Linked DNA regions of Homo sapiens: region 1 is linked to region 2. The links come from fine-mapping of genetic effects on gene expression. Tissue or cell type: whole blood. Region 2 holds a variant in brackets; the other region holds the start of a gene. All regions are shown on one strand. Distances are between the middles of the regions.

Region 1 (10,347 bases), 48 kb before region 2:
GAAGCTCAACTATAAATTCCTCCCATGGTTAGCTTGGCCTACACCCAGGAGTGAGCAAAGACAGCCAGCCTGTGAGGCTGGAAGCAAGATGGAGTCAACCATGCTAGATTTCTCCCACTGTCATAATCTTTGCAAAGACAGTTTCAGTCTGGGTGAAGTTTGCAAATGTCTTTACTGTGTATTTTTCTTTTGACTCCTAGTCCTTCAGTTAGATTCAGTTAGAATTAGATTTGGTGGAAGACATAGACCCAAAATAAAGTGACTTAAATGAAAGTGCAGCTTATTTATCTTGGTTAAAGTGCAACTTATGTGGTAGCTCTGTCCACGAAGTCCTCAGGGACCGAACTCTTTCTATCTTGCTGCTTTCCTCTAATGCTCTGAGGGTTGAATTATGATCTAAAATGGCTACCTAGACAAGCCAACACATCTGCATTTCAATCAAAAGGAAGGATGATGGAAAAAAAGAAGACAAACTTTTGTCTTATCTGTTTGGTAAGGATGGTTGCCACACCTTGCTACATGATACTTTCTCTTACAGCCATTACCCAGTGCATAGTCACAGGGCCACAGCTAGCTGCAAGGGAGGCTGAAAAATGTTGTCTTTCTTCTGGGTGGCCATGTTAGAATTAGATAAAGATATTTTATTACCTAGAATGTGAGCGTTCTAGTATTATGAAACAACAACAATAAAATAACAACAACAACAACTGGATATTGAGGACCGGCCAGCAATCTCTGTCATCCTCTCCTCTATTGAACTTAGTTCATCTGGGCTAATTCTGTCAGAAATTCTTTGAACTTTAATCCAATGCACTAAATCTCGGTGAGGATATGAGTAGATTTCATGGAGCTGACAGCATCAGAGGGGAAAAAAGTCACTAATGAAAATCATATCTCAACCCATTAATGAAAATCATATCCACTAGGGAGTACACATTCCTAAGCCCAGACCTTAGGGGTATATCTCTGCTTGCGACATGAATACTCATCAATGTAAGTTTTGCAAGTGGAACACTTAGTATTCTCAGGAGTAACCAAATGAATACAAGATGTTGACTCATGTCACTTTGACTCCATGAGGTGTTGATTTTGTATATATAAACACAAACATTTAAATCAAAATTATATTTGCATCAATGATTTGCATCAATAAAAGTATGTCCTGGAGCAAATTTCATTTTGTAAATTTATAAAAAATTCATTTTAATATTTTATGTTTTAAATTTTATATTACATACAAACTGTTATATAACATTTATATAACTGTTTCTCATTTTTCTACTTCACTAGAATTATTTTCACTGGAATCATTTCCAGTTCTTTTACATGTAAGCTTCCCATTGAAGTTACAATTTAGCATTATTTTTTGACTTCATGACAAATTATAGTCATTAGAGTTTCTGACATTATGAGTTTTCTTTTGTGGTTAATTAACCAAGACCAGTTGTTTTTCCGCTGAAACTTTGTAGATCTAAATCTTGTCAAAAAGATTTTATTGATTTTTTCATCAATTTAAAATAAGTGACACATTTTACCATGTCTGTTTTTCTCAATTTTTCCAGTTTTCTTTTCTTTTTTTTTTTGAAATGGAGCCTTGCTCTGTCGCCCAGCTGGAATGCAGTCGCGCGATCTCGGCTCACTGCAAGCTCCGCCTCCCGGGTTCACGCCATTCTCCTGTCTCAGCCTCCTGAGCAGCTGGGACTACAGGTGCCTGCCACCACGCCTGGCTAATTTTTTTTTGTATTTTTAGGAGAGATGAGGTTTCACCGTGTTAGCCAGGATGGTCTTGATCTCCTGATCTCGTAATCCGCCCGCCTCGGCCTCCCAAAGTGCTGGGATTACAGGCGTGAGCCACCGCGCCCGGCCAATTTTTCCTGTTTTCAATGTTACCAATCAGCAGTTATTTTTCAGTCAGTTTTAATTTTATAACTAAATTGTGTTCAGTTTTGGCCACTGTTAATTTCATTTTGTATTTATTTCTATCAAGTCCAGTTTTCCCTGTCAACCTGGTCACAATATCCTTGGCATAACAATAGCCAGGCAAAATAACAACAACAAAAAACCCAATGAGATAAAACCCCAAATTCCAGGCAACTATTCTGACATGTTTGGTGGCTATAAAGATGGAAATAAATACATCTTAGGAATCTTCTAGTTCCATCTTCTCATTTTATAAGTGAGAAAACTGAGGTTTCCCAAGAAAGATGAAGTCTTGAGCCAGTGCAAGAGTTATTAAGGATGGAGGTGATGAGCAGGTGTGATAAATACTGATTGGACTGTGGGATGACAAAGAGGGACAAGTCTAGGATGATCTTGGATTTCAGGCTTGGGTGACTGGGTGGATATTGATGCTATTAACTCAGACAAAAATACATGAGTAGGTCAGGTTTGGAGGTGGGGACAGAGGACGAGTTCAGGTTTTTAAATGCTAGCCCGATGTTTAAGTGGAATCTGGATATTTGAATAAGTTTTTTTTTTTTTTTTTTTTTTTTTTTTGAGACAGAGTCTCGCCCTGTAGCCCAGGCTGGAATGCAATGGCATGATCTCAGCTTACTGCAACCTCCGTCTCCCAGGTTCAAACCATTCTCCTGCCTCAGCCTCCCAAGTAGCTGGGATTACAGGTGCATGCCACCACGCCCAGCTAATTTTTGTATTTTTAGTAGAGACGGGGTTTCACCATGTTGGCCAGGATGGTCTCGAACTCCTGACCTCAGGTGATCCTCCCGCCTTGGCCTCCCAAAGCATTGGGATTACAGGCATGAGCCACCGCACCCGGCCTGAATAAGAAATTTTTAAACAGGTCTGAATGGAAAGATAGACTTGGGAATTGTCAGCTTACAAACTTACAGGTGGTAGTCACCTGACAAGAGACAAAGTCACCACCCTGGGAAAATACACATCAAGGAGGCAAAGTTTGTGCAGGCCTGCAGGCCTCATATGGACAGCAGATGTGTTTTGTTTGGTCCAAAACAGAAGTTTAATAAAATGTGAATTAGTGAGCAATGTTTAAAATTTGTGAGATTTCATGTAAATATCTGTATATCGATTGGTGTTTTTTTTTCTTTTTCTTTTTTTTTTTTTGAGATGGAGTCTCACTTTGTCACCCAGGCTGGAGCACAGTGGCGTGATGTTGACTCACTGCAACCTCTGCCTCCTGGGTTCAAGCGATTCTCTTGCCTCAGCCTCCTGGGTAGCTGGGATTACAGGCACCCACCACCACGCCCGGCTAATTTTTGTATTTTTAGTAGAGACAGGGTTTCACCTTATTGGTCAGGCTGGTCTTGAACTCCTGACCTTGTGATCTGCCCGCCTCAGTCTCCCAAAGTTCTAGGATTACAGGCGTGAGTCACCATACCCGGCCCTCGATTATCTTTTAAGCAGGGGATCTGACATCACCGGGTCAGCATTCCTGGTTGGCAAAAATCAACAGAGCTGTGGTAGGGACCACGAGCTCCAGATCACCACAGTCTCTATCCCTGGGCTTCACTCCTTTGTGTTAACTGCCCGGCTGCTGTAGGCTTTGGGGTTTGCAGCCTCTGATGGAGCCTAAGAAAGCCAAGGGAAAAAAGAGCTCAGGAAAAGGGAAAGTGGAAGCCAGTGATAGAAACTGAGGAAAGATAGGTGACAGGAGAACCTAGAGGACTGACTTGGAAACAAGCAAAGAAATCAAGTTTGAAAGGAGGTGAAACAAACCTTGTTTTAGCTATATGATCCAGCTATTTGCTTAGGCCCCAAATTTAAGAATTATTTTTGACACTTTTCTTTTCCTTATCTCCCTTATCTAAACTCATCTCCAAGTCTGTCACATCTACCTCAGAATTATTCCTGAAATTTGTCCATTTCTATCATTTCTTACCTGCTCATTGCAAAAGCAACTCTTCTCTTTGCATCCTTTTAAATTGTTTCTCAAAAGTTTCATGTATACACAGCAGCTAGCAGGGTGATGTTATAAAACTAGATCCTGTCACTTACGTGTTGATAACTCTTCACTAGTTTCCCCTTACACTTCGAATAAACTCGTATTCCTCACAGGAACCCAGAGAGTCTGTGCATGATGGGGACTCTCCTTGCCTTCTTGATCTCATCCTCTGTTCTTCCCATGACCTACTTTCTCACTTTCTCCAAGGCACCACATTCTGCCCCTTCCCTATTGCTTGCTCACATGTAGATTCTTCTCTTGGCTGTTCTTTCCTTAGCTCTCCACAGAGTTGGCTGCTTCTCAGTTTACTGAACCTCTTCAGAGGGCACTTTCTTGACATCTCAAATCAAAAGGTCACCTGTCTTCCTTTAATTTCTCAGCAACTTATTTTCCTTCTACTTTTTTTTTTTTTTTTGAGATGGAGTCTCGCTGTCGCCCAGGTTGGAGTGCAGTGGCGCGATCTCGGCTCACTGCAGGCTCCGCCCCCCGGGGTTCCCGCCATTCTCCTGCCTCAGCCTCCCGAGTAGCTGGGACTACAGGCGCCCACCACCTCGCCCGGCTAATTTTTTGTATTTTTAGTAGAGACGGGGTTTCACCGTGTTAGCCAGGATGGTCTCGATCTCCTGACTTTGTGATCCGCCTGCCTCGGCCTCCCAAAGTGCTGGGATTACAAGCGTGAGCCACCGCGCCCGGCCTTTCCTTCTACATTTAATGTTTGCTTTCTCAACTAGAAAGTAATCCCCATGAGGGAAGGCACAGCGTCTGTCTTGTTCCTGGTTGTTTCCCCAGCTTTTGTTAAGGGTGCTTGCCTGGCACACAGGAGGACCTTAAATTGTGGTGGAATTAATATGTGAACAATAGTCACATGCAGCAGAGGTGAGACTAGGCTAAGGAATAAAATTGCACATCTGTATTTCAGTAACTTTTTTTAAATTTTATTTGAAACAGGGTCTTGCTCTGTGGCTCAGGGTGGAGTGTAGTGGCACGTTCATAGCTCATTGCAGCCTCGAACTCCTGGACCTAAGCAATCCTCCTGCCTCAGCCTCCATAGTAGCTGGACCACAGGTGCACGCCACCACACTCGGCTAATTTTTTAATTTTTTTGTAGAGACGGGGCCTCCCCAGGTTGCCCAGGCTGGTGATTTTTTTCTTAAGCTTCATAAAGATTTTGCAATTAGGAATACTAGGGTACCAGGGCAACTCTACAAGCCCTAGCCAGCCAAGCTGCTCGCGCCCTCCTATGACCGCGGCAGCTCCGCGCCTGCGCAGATCTCCCCCGGGCGGTCTCGCCCTCTCATCCTAAGGGGGCGGGCCTAGCGGAAGGCGGGTCAGGCAGAATGCGGCCCCGGGCGCGTGTGGATGACGTCACCCGGCGCGTGCCGGGGTAGCCCGTAGTAACCCCGAGTCTGCGGAAGTGGTGACCCGTGGGACGCGGCTGAGACAGGTAACCTGTTCGCTCCCTGTTGGGTCCCTGCCTTCCTCTCCTCCGGCGTCGGGATGGCGGCGGGGACAGCATCATTCCGTTCTGAAGGCGACGGGGAACCCTCCCTTACCCTCACTTTTGCTCGACCAGCGAGGACCCGCATCCCCTCCTCAGTTCTCCCAGACTCCTGGGGCTGAAACCCATCCTGGGGACTGGGCGGAGCGGTCACATCTTACCACCTCAGCTGTAGAGGTGGCCACGGGCTCTGGCTGTCTTCTCCCCGGCGGCACAGACCTTTCTCAGCCTCTGGGTGCCTCCTCCTTCGTCTCTTGCCTCCAGGCCCTCGGTCACCTGCCGGTCTCGGCTTCTAGCCCCACAGGGCTCATCTCCAGTCTTAAGTAGGCAGAACAGTTTCGATTCGATTCATTTCCACTTGCAGTGAAACCCATCCGCCTCTTCTTCCCCCGGAGGATCTTTACTGAGAGCACCACATTTTGAGTTTTGGGGTCCCTATAGAACATTCATACTGTTAGTCTGGAGTTTTGTTCATGAACGCATGCATGGGCGGGGAGGGGGTGGCACAGTAATGTGATTATGATTATCTATTGTGATAATAAAATATCCACTTAGGATCCAATCCACTGTTGAGATGCATGGAACAGTTAATAGCATTGCATAAAATGCCCCTTGTACCTGATTTCTTTTTGGTTTTCGTGCAATGATGACAATTACCCTTGCAAAGGTAGCCCTCAAAATAAGTAACATAACCCGCTAGGGATGTTTAGATCGCAAAAAAACAACAATAAGGTTCATATGGTTGATAAAGAAATAATATGGGTTATTACAAAACCAGACAGAATAGATGCTGAGTATATGGGACGAGAAGCAGAATTCTGAAATCCTTGATCTCATTGATTGTTTGGTTTTGTATTTTTAAAATACTTTTAGTCTGTTCCATTTTTGAATAGTGTATATTGTGCTTCGTATAAGTCTGGGAAGCCTTCCAATGACTTGCTAATTGGGAAGATTAGATTCTTCCAATATTTGGGGGACAAAGTAGAATAAGGTTAGGGTATAATAATAGTTGCTTACTGTTGGCCCATCTGCTTTATCCCAGGTACTGTGTTCAACACTTTGCATATGTTTTCTCCTTACTTCATACAACCACCTCGTGAGTTAGGAATTATTACCCCCAATTTATAGAGAAGGAAATTGAGTTTCGGTTATATGAAATTGACTTGCTAAAAATTCACAGTTAACTAAATGGCAAAATCAAGATTTAAATTCAGGTCTGAATATAACTTCAAAGCCTGCACTTTTCTTAAAGGACTCTACTAATGCTCAAATTTTAGGCTTTTTACAATAGTTGCACACAATTTTATGAGTTTGTTCACCTACACAAATGATTTAACACTTTTTAATATCTTTAATACTGTGTTAAGTTCCCATATTCCTGGAGTTAAAACACCTGGAAAGCTTAATTTGTGATCCTTCCTGCGTGCGCGCATGCACACACACACACACACACACACACACACACACCATCCTTATTTTTAAGAATGAGATAAATGGCAAACAAGATTGTGCAGTAAAACCCTGCTGTTTGGAGTCCTCAGGGAATGGGTAATTTTACAGTTGAGAGCTTAATACTTCTTTAGAAATGAAAATTTTATTGACTCTTTGAGATGGAAATTTTAAAAATGTACTACACAATTTCTTGCCTTCTTAAACACTCAGGATGCCGAGTAGATTTTTGACCTCACTGTGCCCGGTCGAGGACAGTTCTTCTAAGGAATTTGGCTGTGAGGAGATAAAGAAGAGTTAGAGGGAGATGTGGACTTAAGGGAGGGTTTTGTTCATTTGTGGGTTTTTCCTGTAAGAAGAGACTGGAACATTCACATTTGTGAGGTGGAAAGGGCTTGGAAACAGGAAGATGCTGAGGTCAAGGATTTAGAGGGCTGGATGATTGATGAAGCAAGGTCCCAGAGGCCACCAAAAGACGATCTCCAGAGCAGAGGCCACCTTCAGGCTATGCGGGGCACGAGGGACACTTCTTCCACTCTCCTGGGAGGGATGGGGAGAAGGGTGGGCACAGACGTGAGTGAGTGTGTGGGATGAGGAAGAAATGTGTGGAAGTTCTTGTGTGATGGAGCAAAAGTTCTTAAGTGCAGCAGGTGAATTTGCTGACATTGCGTTGATTTGTTGGGATAGGGATTGAGGAAAGTTGGTAGAAGTTTAGAATAATCACTGAGGGAAAAGGACAGGGTTTGATGGGGAGACTAGAGAGAAACATGAAGGGTTGCCTGTCCAGGAAAGTTGGTGTCCCACCAAAGTTGGAGTCTATGAATATCTAGAGTCAGATATTCTTGTGATCGTGATATTTATTCAGCTTTTGTTGAGCTTAGTAGTTTAGAAGTACAGAAGGTGGATGATTCCATTGCTTAAAGGTTTGGTTTTATAAAAGTTCTGTCAGAAGGATGAAAGAGCAAGAGACTTGAGGTTAAAATGTTCCAAGAGTGTTTGAAGAAATGAACTATGTTATTCTAAAGATGTCCATAGAGGCTGGGGGCACTGTGGCTCACTCATCCCAGCACCTTGGGAGCCCAAGGCAGGAGGATCCCTTGAGCCCAGGAGTTCAAGACCAGCCTGGGCAACATGATGAAATCCTGCCACTACGAAAAATACAAAAATTAGCCAGGCATGATGGCATATGCCTGTAGTCTCAGGTACTTGGGGGAGGCTGAGATGGAAGGATTAGCTTGAGCCCAGCAGGTCGAGGCTGCAGTGAGCTGTGGTGGCGCCACTGCACTCCAGCCTGGGAGACACAGTGATGAGACACTGTCTTTAAAAAAAAAAAAAAAAGAAAGAAAAGAAGACCATAGAGCAGGGAGTCTCTACTTCTGAAACATTTATAATTCTCTGCTGTGGGGGGCTGTCCTGTGCATTGTAGGATGTTAGCAGTATCTCTGGTCTCTGCCTATTAGATGCCTGTAGCAGACCTCTCCAGTGTGATAATCAAAAATGTCTCAAGACGTTGCCAAATGTCTTCTGAGGGGCAAAATCAGCCCCAATTGAGAACCACTGCCATAGAGTCAGAGGAAGCAGATGGATTGGAGAAAATGTTAAAGCTAAGGGACTGGAGTCTCGATGAAAAAAGAAAGAGCTGGCAAGTAAGCAAGAGAAAGAGTAGGAAGACTGGGAGGCTGTGCTTGGAGGTTAGACTATTGAAATTATGTCACAGGTGGAACTCTTCCACATAATGAAAATGTCTGGGCCGGGCACAGTGGCTCACGCCTGTAATCCCAGCACTTTGGAAGGCCGAGGTGGGTAGATCACGAGGTCAGGAGATCGAGACCATCCTGGCTAACGCAGTGAAACCCTATCTCTACTAAAAATACAAAAAATTAGCTGGGCGTGGTGGCGGGCGCCTATAGTCCCAGCTACTCGTGAGGCTGAGGCAGGAGAATGGCGTGAACTGGTGAGGCGGAGCTTGTAGTGAGCCGAGTTTGCGCCACTGCACTCCAGCCTGGGCGACAGAGCGAGACTCCATCTCAAAAAAAAAAAAAAAAAAAGTCAAGAATGGACCATTGGTCTTCTTCTGTCTAGTATAAATTTTATAAACAGATTAATATCAGAGATCATTAATGCATTTCCTTGAGAGTGAAGAAAAAACGACATCCAGGCCTGTTTCCTAACAGCAGTGATTATTTCCACTTCCAGGCGTAGTGACCATTGTTCAGCCTGACCTCCATTAATTCTGTTGAGTAATTCTTTTGAAAAGTGATGTTTTTTATTTCTTGACTCATAAAGCGTGTAACTTACATGCTATTTGAGAATAAACCTCTATTTTACATTGAGATTTATACCAAATGGCAAAATATAGGATCTCTCTATCTTCGGACAGAATGAGAAGAAACACTTTTTCTACAAGTAAAAATTGTTTTTAAAAAACAGCAAAAAGGATGAAATAGTTGCCTAAATAAGAGGCGTAACTCAGACGTATTCAGAAACTAGTTTTCAACCTTAGTTTCTGCTGCAGGTTTTCTCAGGATTGTGTAGTCATCATCACAGTGGTTATGAAGAATTAGGACATAGTTGGGTCGGTGGTTGTAATTCTGACTGGTTGTTTAATATAATTATACTATTTTATGTACACTGAGAAATTTATATACTAAGTAAAGCATGTCTTGTAATGTTAAAGAAAAAAAAGACGATTAATTTGCTACGTGCAGTGAAGGCGAAGGTTGTTGGCGCTGAGTAGGTCATTTTGAGAGTGGGGAAATGGAGATAATATTACCTGTGGTTAGGGAGCAGGTTGGAAAAGCAGCAGCAGGACAGCCTCAGAGTTTCTGAAATGACACCAGGACTAAGGCTTTCTGGATGCTTGTTTTCTCACTCCGCCCGGTAAGTGCTTCTCAGCTCTTTTCTAGCATAATCATTTCCCCCAACTTTTACTTCTCTCTTGTAGTGTTTTAACAAGTCAAGAGACTTATCCAACTTGTTTTTTTTTTTTTTGAGACGGAGTCTCGCTCTGTCGCCCAGGCTGGAGTGCAGTGGCGCGATCTCGGCTCACTGCGAGCTCTGCCTCCCGGGTTCACGCCATTCACCTGCCTCAGCCTCCCGAGTAGCTGGGACTACAGGCGTCCGCCACCATGCCCGGCTAGTTTTTGTATTTTTAGTAGAGATGGGGTTTCACTGCGTTAGCCAGGATGGTCTCGATCTCCTGACCCCGTGATCCGCCTGCCTCAGCCTCCCAAAGTGCTGGGATTACAGGCGTGAGCCACCGTGCCCGGCCCAACTTGTTTTTTTAAATAGTACTTTTTAGGTGAATAGTTCTTCAGTATTCTCTTGATTTGATTTTGTCATCTTTTTGCTAGGCCTCCAAAAAGCCCTGGTTTCTGTGCTATGTGATATACTTTTAGAGCAGTTCTTTTGCATTTGGGCATCTGATTATAAAGTCTCTCGTTGGTAAAAGAAATGTCAACATATCTTTAAATTTTACAAC
Region 2 (10,347 bases):
ACTGCTAAAATGTAGCTACCCAACTGTAGACTGATTTCAGGTTTGCACTGTGATGTCAGACATGCATAGGATATCAGCTTGTGAAACAGCAAAAAGCCATTGGTTATAAAGACTCTTAACTCCCTAGCGCTTGGTTTGGGCATGTTGGGAAGGGAAGAGTGAGCCTGCAGCTGATGAAGAGAAAAAGGCCAAGAAAAGAATAGGCTGGGAGCACAAAGATAATTTACATTTTCAAGGTGTGCCTACCCTAAGACCTCCCTCTTATGTGATTGTTTTCCTGCTTTTGAAAGGATTTCAGTAAGAATGTGATTGAGTCTCCTATCAGACATGGGTATATTAATGGGGTGTGGCTTTTAGATTGCTAACTTGATCTACATGTTCAGAGTTATAGCTCTGGATACCAAGTGGAAGCTAAAAAAATGTTAGACTTTAGCAGAAAAGATAACCCAGCCATGGAAAGAGGAGGGTGGGAATAGAGAATTGTAAGCACACTGGGGAGGGTGGAGGTGAGAGCTTGCTGGGGGCCTGGCCAGGTAACTGACCCCCTTGATGGAAGAGGTCAGGTGCCCAGATGCACAATGGCAGAAAGAGCTTTCAAGAGCGTGACAGAAGGGATCAGGACAAAATTCTAGAACAAAATGTCTAGAACTAGATAGCTAAAGAGGACATAATACTGAACTGGGAAGGAAAGGATGGTGACAACATGGTGGATTTTAATCCAGTTGGTGGAAGGACCAGCCCCCCATCGACTGACTCAAATATGCCTACAATATCTATGCGTCCTACTTCATCAAATCATCATTTTCACATTTTCTGAGGCAGGTCTGATTTCAGACATTTGAACCCATTCATGGACACCACACTGGGATTAGGAAAACATCCTTTCTGTGTCCATAAAAGTGTCGTCTGTCATGTGCTTATGTAAAGCCCTTTATAAGCAAATTAAACAGGTGCATGCCCTCCACCTTTCTCCCTGGACCCATCCTGTTCTTCCTTTCTTGTTCAGTAGCTTTGCCATCCATCTTATCACTTGAGCCAGAAACCTCAGAAAAGTCTGTGTTAACTATGGCTGCACAACAAATTACCCCCACACTTAGCAGTTTAAAAGAACAAACATTTATTACCTCTCACAGTTTCTGAGGCTCGGGAATCTAGGAGCAGCTTAGCCGGTGTCTCTTGCTCAAAATATCTTGCAAGGTTACAGTCCAGCTGTTGGCCGGGGCTGCAGGTGTCTCAAGGTGTGCCAGGAGCTGGAAAATCCTCTTTCAGACTCACTCGCGTGGCTGTTGCAGGCTTTGGTTCCTCACTGACTGTTGGCCAAAGGTCTCTGTTTCTTACCATGTGGGTGCCTCCCTAGGCTGCCTGAGTGACTTCATGACACTCATGGCCCAGAGTAAATGATGGGAGAGAGAGTGAGAAAAGATAGTCTAAGATAAAAACCACAGATTTTAAAATAGTCTCAGAAGTGACATGCCGTCACCTCTGCTGTATCCTGTTGCATCCCTGTCCCAGGTCAAACCTTTGCATTATCACGGCCTGTATACTTGTAGAATAAGTGTACTGCAACTGCCTGTTTGCTCTACACAGGTCTGTTTGGGCACACAGATCTGGTACAGTATGGAAGGGGACTACACAACGATGTAAATATTAGGAGTAAGGGGTTGTAAATATTGGAGGCCAGCTCAGCAGCTGGCTACTTCACAGAAGTCTTCCTTTCCTTCTCCCTCTTCTTCAGCACATCACTTACTAAGTCCTGATTCTTCCTGCACAGTATTTCTCAGATTTGACCTCATCTCAAATCCGATTGTTTCTTTGGGGAAGTGGTATGGAAGCTGATGGAGGCAGCCTTGGGGGCCACATACCTAAGGGCACAAGTGGAATGTGTAATAATATGCTAGCATGGCCTCCAACCCAGCCTTATAGAGAGGAGACCAACATCTTGGTAAGCCAGTCTTTTGGGGAGGATTTCTTCCCTGTGCAGGCAAGGGAAGACCCATAACACAGAGTTACCCTATGCAAATTAGGTGCTTATTGAACAGAACAGACAATAGAAGTCACTACCTGCTCCCCGCTTCACCAGCCCAATACCCATTTCACCCGTGACTCAGAAGTTGAGGAGCTTCCCCACAGTCATTTGGTAAGTTGGCAACCCAGGTGGTACAAAGGTGTTTAGACTTTCTGATCTTTCCCTGCCCCATGTCAAACCTTCACATTATCATGGCATGTATACTTGTAGGATAAGCGTACAGCAACTGCCTGTTTGCGCTGAGATCCATTTTCTGCTCTTATTGTGATCTTCTCCAAGTGACAAGGAACTTCATTTCCTAGGCTCTCTTGTCTTCTGGCTTCCTGCTAGGTTTGGCCAGTGGGGGCCACTGGTGGAAGATTTGAAAGCAGGAGCTGGCTAGAAATACGTTACTTCTGTAACGTATTTCTCCTCCTCCTGTTTTCCTTTGGCCCCTTCAGTGTGGTTGAGTCTCCTGTGGTCCCAGCTCCCCCTGGACAGTCCCCACTGTGACTCTGGCTTCTGCCAGATGACTCCTGCCTCATAACCCAGTAATCACCCAGCTCCTCCAATATGAGGAGTCACAGCTGATTACTGCTGTGGCTAATCCCTGGGTTGTCTTACTGTCCTCTGATTGGTCTCTCCGCTCTTCTATCATTTAAACTCATTCCCGAGTTTAAATTACCTGTTTGTTAAGACCTAGACTGGTTTCTCTTTTCCATACTAGACCCTGACTGATGGAGTTGAACCATCTTTCTGTGTTTTCTCGCACACTGTGTGAACACAATAAATGCTCAATTATAATGATGTTAATGAAAAAAGAAAATGAGTTTATCCAAAAGAAGTAGTGCTTTGCTCTATTCATTTACTTTATAAGTCAAGCTGACTAAAACTACATATTTGTCATTTGTCATAACTGAAAAACAGAAAGTAGAAACATTCTCCTGAGTTTTTTATGAGGAGTCAGTCTTGTTCCTTCTACTCTGGTGTCAAGAGTGGACCCTTTGATCTTGAGAATCTTTATCTTTGTCAACCATGACTTTATCATGGGACAGATCTTTCTTGGTTTGGGTAGGGCTGTACTTTCTAATCGCAGCAGAATGAGTCCTAATGCTGTGTCATTGGTTTTGCACATGGTGACTTGGTAACGACTCTGCGCCCTTGGCTTTCCCATCACAAGCCTGGTTGTTGTGACCCACAGTCCTGTTCATATGCCAGCCCCTGTTCTTGGCCTCCACACAAGGATTCCCACAAGGGTTCTATTTGAGATGGTGGCTTCCAAGATTGGGGGTATCTGCCTGCCAGCCCTGGATTTGAGACCACCAGCTTGTTTTTCCAAGCATTAATATCTCAGTGATCTCCAAACATATTTTCTTTTCCAGAATACTTTCCAAAAGATTTGTAAGAATGTCTCTAAAAATTTTCTTTTGAAGGCACCAGGGCCTGAGGGGAGGGGGCAAGGGTAATATAACTTGGCCGATTAGTATTTAAAACTTTATCCAAAAAATATTTTTCTCCTTAAATAAACCAACTCTTTTTACATATTTAAGTAATTCATCTGAGAGAAGTAACCACTCAGCTATTCACATAGCCAGCCCTTGGCAGCTTCAGTTCAAAATGCTAGGAAACCAGTCAACTACAAAGTTTCAAATGTTTTCTTTGAAAGCTCAACTTAACCTGCACTACCATACTGGTGAGAAAAGTGACAACTCATTTTAAAGATTCACCCCCTTTCTTTCTTTGTCTCTCTTCTGCAGGCCATGTGTTTATACTGTGGGATCTCCCATAAACAACAGGGCCCTTTTTCCATGCCAGGAGCCACCCGTTGCCATGTCAACATGGCAGGCTACAGTTCGAGCAGCTGCATCTTTTGTTGTTTTAATGAGTGGGGAAAATTCTGCCAAACCAACGCAGCTTTGGGAAGGTACTGTACATGTGTTCTTTGCTTATTTATGTATTGCACACATGTGGACCCAGGAACCCAATAAACAGTATTTTTCTAAACTTTAAAGAGCTCCTTTATTAGTTGGGTTGGAAATGATCATAGTATAAAACATCCTGCCAGGGAAAACAAGCAGGGGATGGGGAGGGACACTTAGGAGCCTGGGCATGGGATTTGGGGCTCTTCATACTAGAGTTGTCGGTTCATAGACTATTTCAGCAGTTGCTTTCACCTGGTGGTTTGTAGGCCATAAGTAGGTGGTCTTGACTGAAGACGTTCTGAACAGGCAGGTGTACCATGGAAACACCATTAGAGTTGAGTTGTCTGTGATTTGTTATGGTGTCTGTACATGGTTATTCATTATGTTAAGAGATAGTGCTCTTGTTGGCTGGCCCACTGGAGTTGTCTTAATGAAGCATCTTTTCTACACATGGTTTGCCTGTGTAAAGTTCTGAACCAAAGGTGTATAAGAAAGATGGAAGGCAGTGCTAATGCATCATCAAGGTTTTATCTATGAATTACTTCTTATTGCAGCATTTAACTTTTTCAGTGGAGATCCTGAGCATGTTGATGCCAGGAAAAAATTTGTTTATTTGAGAGACAGGGTCTCGCTCTGTTGCCCGGGCTGGAGTGCAATGGCTTGATAACGGCTCACCGTGGCCTTGACCTGCCAGCCTCAATTGATCCTCCCACCTCATCCTGCCAAGTAGGTGGAACTACAAGTGCATGCTACCACGCCCAGCTAATTTTTGCACTTTTTTTGTAGACATGAGATTTTGCCATGTTGCCCAGGCTGGTCTTGAATGCCCAGGTTCAAGTGATCTGTCTACCTCAGCCTCCCAAAGGTGTGAGCCACTGTGCCTGGCCAGGAAACATTTTTATAGTTATATTATTTCTTTATTTAAAATATGGCATCTCCTTTGAGACCATCCTGGCTAACACGGTGAAATCTCGTCTCTACTAAAAATACAAAAAATTAGCCGGGCGTGGGGGCGGTTGCCTGTCGTCCCAGCTACTCGGGAGGCTGAGGCAGGAGAATGGCGTGAACCTGGGAGATGGAGCTTGCAGTGAGCTGAGATGGCGCCACTGCACTCCAGCCTGGGCGACAGAGTGAGACTCCATCT[CA/C]AAAAAAAAAAAAAAAAAAAAAGGGCATCTCCTTCCACATATTTATTATAGAAACTTTAAAATATACAGAAAACTAAAAATAAATTAAAAAAATTATAGAGAAAATTATCGCTAAGATTTTGTTACATTTCCTTTCAGTATTTAAAATCTATATGTTTTGTGCAGTTATCATCCTCAAATTGTGATAGCATATGATGGTGTTTATTCTGCCTTTTTCACTTATAGTGTATCTTGAACAATTTACAGGTCGTTAAATATTTTTAATATGATTTTAACATTGGCACAATATTTTTTATCTGAATATATCAGAATTTAACATTTCTATATTAAATATTTTGATTATTTCAGTTTTTTTCCTGTTATAAATAAAGTTGCATTAAATTCCAGGGGAGACATTTTATATAAAATTAGAATTACTGAGTCAAAAGTTGGAACATGTTTAAGGTTGTTGGTACATATCCCATAATGTTTTCCAGAAAGGCTGTGCCAATTTATACATTCATCTGTAGTTATGAGGGTCCTTGTCACCTGGAACTTTGCTCATCTGATAGGCAGCAGCAGGTCTCTCTTTAATTGGATTACTTTGATGATTAGTGAGTTTCACATGTCCTTATATGTTTCTTAACCATTTTCATTTTCTGTTTATTTCCTTTGCCCATTTTTTATACTGAAGACCTAGATTTTTGCCATTTGTCTTATTTTTCAATTTTATTGGCTCTTTAAAAAAAGATATTAATTTCTTATATTTATGAAAAGCATTGCTCCCAGCTTTTGGTATATCTTTTAATTTTATATGATGTGTCTTTTTATGAAGTTAAATTTATTAGATTTCTCTAAGATTCATTTTGTTCTGATATTTTTATAGTTTAATTTTTATAACTCTTTAATCAGTCTGTAATTTATTCTCATCAGGTTGTGAAATGAGGACTAAACATTGTCTTTTTTTTTCAAATAGAAAACCAGTTGCTTCAGGATCATTTATTGAATTTTTAAATTTTGTGATGTCTTTATCATAAGCTAGATTAACGTATGTACTGAAGTCACCGATGAGTATTTACTTGATTTTTTTTTTTTTTTGAGACAGAGTCTTGCTCTGTCGCCAGGCTGGAGTGCAATGGCGCGATCTCTGCTCACTGCAACCTCTGCCTCCCGGGTTCAGGCGATTCTGTCTCGGCCTCCCCAGTAGCTGGGACTACAGGCATACACCACCATGCCCAACTAATTTTTGTATTTTTAGTAGAGACAGGGTTTCACCATGTTGGCCAGGATGGTCTTGATCTCTTGACCTCGTGATCTGCCCGCCTAAGCCTCCCAAAGTGCTGCAATTACAGGTGTGAGCCACTGCGCCCAGCCTTACTTGATTCTTAAAAACAACACATTTAGGCTGGGACAGTGGCTCACGCCTGTAATCCCAGCACTTTTGGAGGCCCAGGTGGGCGGATCATGATATCAGGAGATCGAGACCATTCTGGCTAACACGGTGAAACCCCATCTCTACTAAAAATATAAACAAACAAACAAAAAATTAGTCAGGCGTGGTGGCGGGCGCCTGTAATCCCAGCTACTCGGGAGGCTGAGGCGGGAGAATGGTGTGAATCCGGGGCTTGCAGTGAGCCGAGATCACGCCACTGCACTCCAGCCTGGGTGACAGAGTGAGACTCCATCTCAAAAATAAATAAATAAATAAATAAAATAAAATTTTTATATTTAAAAATAAGTAACATTTACGTGGTTCATTTATAGAAGAACAAAGGACAAAGCATTATGTGCAATAACGTGTTTTTCTTACCTCTATTTCCCAGACATCCAGTAACACTTCCCCAGGCAACCAAGGTTACCAATTTCTCTTGAATAATATGTTTTTTCTCTTTTGTTGTACAAATTGTAGCATGCTAGACACATTTTTGTATTGTGCTTTCCCTTTTAGAATAAATTTATTTTATAGATATTTTGTAACAGAGCGTAAAGAGTATCCTCATTATTTATTTATTATTATTATTTGTTTTTTGGAGACGGAGTCTTGCTCTGTCACCAGGCTGGAGTGCAGTGGCGTGATCTCGGCTCACTGCAACCTCTGCTTTCCGGGTTCAAGCATTTCTCCTGCCTCAGCCTCCCGAGTAGCTGGGACTACAGGCGCACGCCGCCATGCCTGGCTAATGTTTTGTATTTTAGTAGAGATGGGGTTTCACTGTGTTGCCCAGGCTGGGCTCGAACTCCTGAGCTAAGGCAGTCCACTCGCCTCGGCCTCCCAAAGTGCTAAGATTACAGGCATGAGCCACTGCGCCCGACCTTTCCTCATTATGTTATGGCTATGAGTATCCTATAAATGGATGTTTTACAATTTAGTTAACCAATATCTCTGGAATTCATATCAAATAAGGAATTGGATGGGTATTTACTCCATTATCCTTCCGCACCCATATTCTCCAGTTTTACTTAATAAAACTTGGGATTTGGGACTCACATTTTCTCTATAACTTTTTGTATTATGTATTTTCTAGGAATTACTATTATTGTATTTTCATTCAGTTTCAAATGATTTCATAATAAGTATTTAGACTTTCTTCATTCTTGAGCTCTTAAGTTGGCTGGGAAATAGCTTCATTTTTTTTTTTTTTTTAGAAGACTGGATGAATGGTACATTTTCTGAGCCCTCCCATATTTAGATTGGCTTTTTGTTGTATTCACTTATGAACAATCCTTGGCTAGGTATAACATTCTTTTTTTTAATATTTTTATTTGTAGCAGCCCTATTAACTGAAGTATAACATTCTTGAAGGAAAATTTTTTAAAATGAATGATTGACATTCATTTGAATGATTGACAGAAAACTAATGTTAAGGCTGGGCGGGGTGGCTCACGCCTGTAATCCCAGCACTTCGGGAGGCCGAGGGACGGATCATGAGGTCAGGAGATTGAGACCATCCTGGCTAACACGGTGAAACCCAGTCTCTACTAAAAATACAAAAAATTAGCCGGGCGTGGTGGTGGGTGCCCGTAGTCCCAGCTACTCCGGAGGCTGAGGCAGGAGAATGGCGTGAACCCGGGAGGCGGAGCTTGCAGTGAGCTGAGATCGTGCCACTGCACTCCAGTCTGGGCGACAGAGCGAGACTCCATCTCAAAAAAAAAAAAAAGAAAACTAATGTTAAAATAACATAATGTAAATCTCTACTGCTGAAATTAGGAACAAAAATGTCACTATGGAAAATCAGTAGGACGAAGTGTAAATAAAAATGAAAAGGCAAGCCACATATACCGGATGTATTTGTAATACATATATCTGGCAAAAGGCTTGTACCTAGAATTATATAATCTTTTTTTTTTTTTTTTTTTTTTTTTTGAGACAGTGTCTCATTCTATTGTCCAGGCTGGAGTACAGTGGCGCGATCTCAGCTCACTGCAACCTCTGCTTCCCGGGCTCAAGCGATTCTCTCACCGAGCAGCTGGGATTACAGGCATGCACCACCATGCCCAGCTAATTTTTGTATTCTTAGTAGAGACAGGGTTTCACCATGTTTACCAGGCTGGTCTTGAACTCCTGACCTTCAGTGATCCACCTGCCTCGGCCTCCCAAAGTGCTGGGATTACAGGTGTGAGCCACCGTGCCTGGCCTATAAAGTATTCTTATAACCTAATAATAAAACAATAAAAAACCCCACATGAAAGAAAATGAGCAAATGACATGAACAGATGCTTTTCAAAAGAAGATATAAGAATGTGCAAAGTAAATGAAAAGGTGCTCAACATCGTCATCAGGGAAATGCAAATTAAAACCATAATGAGATAGTATTTTACACCTAGTTAGAGGGCTAAAATTAAAAGGACAGAAAATACCAAGTGTTTCCAAGGATAAGCCACAACTAGAACTCTCATACATTGCTGGTGAGAGTATGAAAGAATGCAACCACTTTGGAAATAGTTTGGCAGATACTCACAAACTTAAACATATATTTACACGATCTAGCAATTTTACTCTTGAGTATTTACCCAAGAGAAATGAAAACCTACGTCCACAAAACGATTAATACCTGATTGTTCACAGCACATTTTCCATAATGACCAAAAACAGTCTAACTGTAGATGGATAAACAAATTATGGTTTATTCACACAATGGACCACTACTGATAAATCAAAAAAAAAAAAAATAGCTAGTGACACCTGCAACAATATGGATGAATCTCACAAACATTATGCTGAGTAAAATAGAGTCACACTGAATGACCCTTTTTATATGAATTTTGAGAAGAAGTCAAACCAGTCTGTACTGATGGAAACCAGATCAGTGGTTGGCTGGAATGGGGTTAGGAAGAAATGAGTGCAAGGGTACAGCGGAATTTCTGGGGTAATGGAAATGTTCATGGGGGTAATGATTATGTAAGTGTGTTTATCTGTGAAATCTCATTGAACAACACATTTAAGATGTACACATTTATGGCCAGGCGTGGTGGCTCACACCTGTAATCCCAACACTTTGAGAGGCCAAGATGGGCGGATCACTTGAGGCCAGGAGTTCAAGACCAGCCTGGGCAACATAGTGAAACCCCGTCTCTACAAAAATACAAAAAAATTAGCTGGGCGTGGTGGTACACGGCTGTAATCCCATTTACTCAGGAGGCTGAGGCAAGAGAATTGCTTGAACCAGGGAGGCAGAGGTTGCAGTGAGCTGAGATCACACCACTGCACTTCAGCGTGGGTGACAGAATGATACTGTCTAAAAAAAAAAAAAAGTACACATTTATTGTATATGTGCGGTGGTTAATTTTAGGTGTCAACTTGACTGGATTAAAGGGGTTGGCAGATACACGCAGCTTCTTTATCTGGGCTCTAGTGTCTTGCTGGCAATTGTCCAGTCAGGTTCTGCTAGACTCACATAGGCTTTTTCTCTGTTGTCTCTGTTTGGTTCCCTGACTTGCTGAATTGATTGAGTATATGAAACACTGCAATTTCAGATAGGCACTGATAGGTGGCCTACTCACATTTCTGCCTATAGCAGTGTGCTTGTGATAACTCCACCTCCCAAGATGCCATGTGGCTCTCCCCACCCTCACCTCACCAAGCCTACATATTTTCTCATTCATGGTTTGGCCCTGCAGTAAAGCCTTGTGTTTGACAATGTTTCCCAAACTTGAGCATTATTCTTCTTTTTAGAGGGAAAGGTCTCATGATTTACCACAGTTGACCTAAATTATTTATATTAGAATGACATTTCAAAAACTATAGATCTAAGACTAGATATGAACTCTGTGTTCTTACAACTCTTACACATCCGTAAAG

Evidence for each region. PIP is the estimated chance that this variant, and not a neighbour inherited with it, causes the effect.
Region 1: it holds the start of AOPEP, and the variant in region 2 is fine-mapped to the expression of AOPEP in whole blood (INTERVAL, PIP 0.91).

What each region holds. Positions count from the first base shown.
Region 1 is chr9:94,721,389-94,731,735 of GRCh38, forward strand. AOPEP (aminopeptidase O (putative)) reads left to right here and starts at 5,311. Exons shown (of 17, transcript NM_001193329.3): 1 at 5,311-5,363. RefSeq lists enhancers at 1-228, 4,923-5,092, 5,038-5,580, 5,103-5,582.
Region 2 is chr9:94,769,240-94,779,586 of GRCh38, forward strand. AOPEP (aminopeptidase O (putative)) reads left to right here. Exons shown (of 17, transcript NM_001193329.3): 3 at 3,763-3,929. Among named protein-coding and RNA genes, the nearest start is that of MIR2278, 36 kb to the right of the region's middle. The variant CA/C (reference allele first, on the strand shown) is at 5,072.